Regions from separate parts of the Homo sapiens genome. Here region 2 is linked to region 1. The links come from fine-mapping of genetic effects on gene expression. A gene starts in region 1. The other region holds a variant in brackets. All regions are shown on one strand. Distances are between the middles of the regions. Region 1 holds the start of HSD17B7 (hydroxysteroid 17-beta dehydrogenase 7). Region 2 overlaps HSD17B7 (hydroxysteroid 17-beta dehydrogenase 7).

Evidence for each region.
Region 2: its variant is fine-mapped to the expression of HSD17B7 in whole blood (INTERVAL, PIP above 0.99).

The regions. Positions count from the first base shown.
Region 1 is chr1:162,789,494-162,792,414 of GRCh38, reverse strand. It overlaps HSD17B7 (hydroxysteroid 17-beta dehydrogenase 7), which reads right to left and starts at 1,713. Exons shown (of 9, transcript NM_016371.4): 1 at 1,580-1,713. The coding sequence starts at 1,614. RefSeq lists silencers at 129-329, 1,726-1,785.
Region 2 is chr1:162,810,356-162,813,276 of GRCh38, reverse strand. HSD17B7 (hydroxysteroid 17-beta dehydrogenase 7) reads right to left here. Exons shown (of 9, transcript NM_016371.4): 9 at 454-979. The coding sequence ends at 857. Among named protein-coding and RNA genes, the nearest start is that of HSD17B7, 21 kb to the right of the region's middle. The variant A/G (reference allele first, on the strand shown) is at 1,280.

The DNA.
Region 1 (2,921 bases):
AAACAAGAATTGTTCTTTAGTTTTTCTACTACTGGGCTTTATCCTGCCAGTGGTTTTCATTTTGTACCTATTATGTCACTCATGAAAATGATTTAATATATCACCAGTAAGGGCTCAAAAGAGCATCTTATTAGCTGTTTCCTATGTGCATTTTGACTTTGCTGTCTAGGCTCCTCAGGGGCAAGGGCTCTACCACCTACTGGTATCGTAAACACCATAAGGAGCACCAGAAATCTCTGATAAAGGAACAGATGAATCTTTCAGGATGAGGCATCAGTAACATGGCAGGATGTACAAATCCCTCTCAACAACTATGATTAAATAATAGAAAAAGAAAGAACTCAACATGATTAAGTAGAAGGTAGGAATACACTAAATATTAGATGAGTACACCACTTGGAAACAAAGAACTTCAAAACCAGCATTGTAAAACCGCATAGGAGTGGTGACAGCAGTCAGACCAGCCTGGCTGATAGCAATGAAAAGCTGGGTAATAAGTTCTCTTTCAAGACTTAAGCTGATTCCAGGCAAATATGTTAATAGTTAAAACCCAAAAAGAGCCTGGAACCATCAGTAATCTATTAGCACCAACAACAAAGCATCAAAAATATTTATTTGTCCTCACATGAGAACAGTAGGCATTTAATATACAATTGCACATGTCACAATATATGTAAAAGAAACAGACAAAATCAATTCTGACTTACTCAGTACCTTCCACATAAGAAGCACCAATCAACGGTTAAAGTCACTTGAGAGGGTATGCTAAAAAGTTGCCAAATGCAGACACCTACCAAGCTGGCTTAGTTAATACGCATGTGGTTAAATAATTGAAAGTGGATCAATCTTAAATGTTTAACATGTCCTCTGTCTTAATCATTTAAAAATGCCAAATGCAACTAGTAGAAAAATGGTTTGATTGGCTTCATCCTCCACACATTTTTCACAGAAGTGCAAATGACAGGTAAAACAAGCAACAGAAGAGGCTGAGAGACTAAACGAGCAACCCTGGAATTATTATGAGCTGGTTATTCTGCACCCCAACCATGCCTTCATAGGAAAAGATTAATTTTCTCTGGGTTTCTGAAGAGTATGTTAGCTCTCTAGCACTGAGCTAAATGAAACGGGATTGTTTTCTCTCCACCGTCCTAATGTTCATGGGTGTTCAAATTTGTAGGCAAAAGGCTTGTACAGACAAAACACCTGGAGTATAAGACATGATCACGTGGTCAGGAGCAAAATATTGGGCACTGACGATAAATACGAACAGTAGGCAAAGATGGAAAAGGGGCGGAGCCCGCCTGAGTACCCCATTGCCTTGATAACCTCAGGATCATCACTGCGACACTCATCACTTACTGATGCTCTAGTTTTCCTTTTCACTGTCATGTTTAATACAAAGCACCAGTTACTGAGCACCTCAAGAGGCCGACATGCCCCACACCTGCTGCAGACTCCGGGGAACCTAGGCAAAGCCAGGGGCGGGCGCTTCCGGGGTCCGTTCGTGGAGGGTCGCAGACCCCTGCTCTCTCGGACCCCTGATCCGCTGCCGCCTCTGCCAACCCAAAGGAGGCCTCACCTGCTAGCCCCGGTGATCAAAACCACCTTTCGCATCTTCGCGCACTCACACTTCCAAGCAGTGAAGCAAACACCGCCGCTGCTTTCGGAAGTCCTACGATTTCGGGCCGCCTCACCCGTCACCAATCAGAGTACGGCCACGCCCCGCCTCCCGTTGCGTCATCGAGTCTGAGCTGATCCCTCCAATCTCAGTCCGCCAACCGTTCCCTGCCCTCGGAGACGGCGTCGGGTGAGATAGGCCGAGGGGCGGAGCTGCGTGACGCAAAGCCCGGAGCCATTCCAGGCTCTTCTCGCTCCGCCTAGGCGCAGGTGTCTGTCACTGCTTCCTAGGGCTCAGCGGGCGCCTGATCTTTAATCCTGGTGGGGGCGTCACCCGGCCTAGCACTCAGGACAGGATCTGTGACACGCACTGGGTCTGTGCCCTGGCGCCTGAGATTGGCACTTCTTTGCAGGAAGGCCTCACGGTATTTGCACCAGTGCCCATTTTAGAGAAAAGGTTTGGGTCTAGGAGCCAAAGTTGGGCGATTATCATCTAATTTTCCACTCCTTTTTGGATGTACAGATCCAGGCATTGTGCCACTTCACAGCCCAACTTTTGATCCCAGACCTCCTCCTCTAAAGAAGCTTATTTGAGAAAATGAGCACTGATTTTATTAAGAACTTTATGTAGAATCAGACGTAAATTACCAGTATTCAAAACTTGGAATGTGGCGTGGAATCAGAATCTCAGAACTTCATTCTCCGAAGTACTGAGAATGTGCTGTAACCTTCTGTATCAGTGCATCTCAAACTGTGCTAAAGGACCTGTTTTTGTCTCCAAGCCATCCCAGATGGGTGCTTTTAGAAAATACAAAAAAATAAAGTGCTAGAAAAAGAAAAGCAAAAGGCATACAAAACACAAGCCCCGATATTTTATTATTAGATCCAAGACATATAAAAGTACTCTGCCAAAATGAGGCAGAATAGGGTTTGGAGGCAGGGTACTTAAGGCCACTTCGTGCTGACTTCCTAAAGCTCAATCAAGGAAAAACAGCAAGGGCTGGAAGTAGGGAATCTGAGACCAATTGGTGCTGGCTTCCCAAAGCTGGATCAAAAGGAAAACACCTGGGTCTGGGGGCCGAGAGCCTAGGGTCAATTAACACCAACTTCCTAAAGCTAAACCAGAAGGAAAAACCCCATCTCCCCACTCCCCAGTAGCAAAGGATCAAAGGCTACTCTCCCTACAACCTTCTGTTCTCAGACCAAACTGAGGGTTGGGCTGCTATTTTTCAAGGCCCAATAACGAGATGCAGATGAGCTGGGGAGGAAGAGAGTTTTTATTTCTGTAACCGGTTGCAGGGAGA
Region 2 (2,921 bases), 21 kb before region 1:
TTTTATTTTTACATAAAATCTTTCCGAAAAGAACTCTAATAATTTTGATGTGATACCACTCTAGAGAATAACTAATTAATATTTTTACTTAATCAATTTTTTATTTTTGAGATGGAGTCTTGCTCTGTCACCCAGGCTGCAGTGCAGTGCCACGATCTCGGCCCACTGCAACCTCTGCTTCCTGAGTTCAAGTGATTCTCCTGTCTCAGCCTCCCAAGTAGCTGAGATTACAGGTGCACGCCACCACACCTGGCTAAGTTTTGTATTTTTAGTAGAGATGGGTTTTTGCCATGTTGGCCAGGCTGGTCTCAAACTCCTGACCTCATGATCCGCCCACCTCAGGCTCCCAAAGTGCTGGGATTACAGGCTTGAGCCACCGTGCCCGGCCCAATCTTTTTCTCATATGCATACACATACACAGTCTTGGAGATCATTCCAAAAGGAAGGAAAAGAGACAGTCATAGTTCATAGTTTATTACAAATGCATATTATCCAACTCAGTAGAAATCCATGTACCCCAGAATGTACAGAAGGTATGCAATGTTCCAGAGTGTCATTGTCAGCTCTGGTTTTATATATATATTAAATATATACATATTTTGAGACAGGGTCTCGCTGTCACCCAGGCTGGAGTGCAGTGGCACAATCTCAGCTCACTGCAACCTCTGCCTCCCAGCCTCAAGAGATCCTCCCACCTCATCCTTCTGAGTAGCTGGGACTACATGCGCATGCCACCACACCCAGCTATTATTTTTATTTCTTTTTGTAGAGACAAGGGCTCACTATGTTTCTCAGGCTGGTCTTGAACTCCTGGTCTCAAGTGATCCTTCTGCCTTGGCCTCCCAAAGTGCTGGAATTATAGGCATGAGCCACTGAGCCTGGCCTGATTATCTGTTTTTTGAATAGTGACCCTAATGTGCTTTTCCAGTTCCAGTAACTTTTGATAAAATTTTTCAGCAGTGTCTTCATCTAGGTCCATCTGGAAAAGAAGCAAAAATAGAGATGTCTAGAAATGAAAAATAAGATGAATAGTATTTGTATAAAAAAAAGGCATTCAATATATGAAATAAAAAGAAAGGAGGCAGCAGGAAAGGGCCATGGTGGCAGACACGTGGAAGAAGCTGAGAGCCTGAAGACATACTAAATCTCAGTCTCAGTTCCAACACTCACCAAACCCACTGATGCTTCCCTTAAACAGCAAGACTGAAAGATCTGAGTTTTGCTATCTCCCCCAACTTTTATATGCCCAGTAACAGAAGACACCAACCAACTGGTTATC[A/G]AAGGACAAAACAGAAAAATCAAGAGTTTTGTGAGTTTTTAATGGCTACTCACTTCCTAATATCAATCTGGCTTAGTAAAAGAGCCCTGGTTTTAGCTGGGCTCACTGCCCTCTGGATATAAGACGATACTTCAGCCTCCATTGAAACAATGGGTGCCAGAGCCATGAGACTATGTTCTGGCTAGTGAGATGTAAATAATACCTGGAGTCTCTTCAAGAGAAATAAAGCATCCCTTTTTTCTTCCCTTCTTCCATACCACTCTCGAGCCACAAGCCTGAGGGCCATGCCCTAAAGATGGCCAGGTGGTGATTGCAAGGAACTTGAGTACCTGACAATTTGTGGACTTGCCATGGCAGCCTGAGACTGCCTCTCTCCTAAATGCTTTTACATGCAAGAAATTTAAGATTCTATCTAGTTTAATCTATAGTTATTTTACATTCTTGTGTTTCATGCAGAAAATCTCAACAGTATGTACAGGCAAACTTTCAGCCCTTTTAAATAGTGATATCCTTTCATCAAGCCAACACAGAGCCTAAACTTCAAGAACAGCCTCTTTGTTCACAAAATTGAAAGGCTAAAAATTAAATAAACTTTTGAACATTTTGAAAATAACATTTTTAAGGGCAGCCAGAGAGAAAGGTCGGGTTACCCACAAAGGGAAGCCCATCAGACTAACAGCGGATCTCTTGGCAGAAACTCTACAAGCCAGAAGAGAGTGGGGGCCGATATTCAACATTCTTAAAGAAAAGAATTTTCAATCCAGAATTTCATATCCAGCCAAACTTAGCTTCATAAGTGAAGGAGAAATAAAATCCTTTACAGACAAGCAAATGCTGAGAGATTTTGTCACCACCAGGCCTGCCCTACAAGAACTCCTGAAGGAAGCACTAAACATGGAAAGGAACAACCGGTACCAGCCACTGCAAAAACATGCCAAATTGTAAAGACCAGCGATGCTAGGAAGAAACTGCATCAACTAACAAACAAAATAACCAGCTAACATCATAATGACAGGATCAAATTCACACATAACAATATTAACCTTAAATGTAAATGGGCTAAATGATCCAACTAAAAGACACAGACTGGCAAATTGGATAAAGAGTCAAGACCCATCAGTGTGCTATATTCAGGAGACCCATTTCATGTGCAGAGAGACACATAGGCTCAAAATAAAGGGATGGAGGGAAATCTACCAAGCAAATGGAAAACAAAAAAAGGCAGGGGTTGCAATCCTAGTCTCTGATAAAACAGACTTTAAACCAACAAAGATCAAAGAGACAAAGAAGGCCATTACATAATGGTAAAGGGATCAATTCAACAAGAAGAACTAACTATCTAAATATATATGCACCCAGTACAGGAGCACCCAGATTCATAAAGCAAGTCCTTAGAGACCTACAAAGAGGCTTAGACTCCCATACAATAATAATGGGAGACTTTAACACCCCACTGTCCACATTAGACAGATCAACAAGACAGAAAGTTAACAAGGATATCCAGGAATTGAACTCAGCTCTGCACCAATCAGACCTAATAGACATCTACAGAACTCTCCACCCCAAATCCACAGAATATACATTCTTCTCAGCACCACACAGCACTTATTCCAAAATTGACCACATAGTTGGAAGTAAAGCA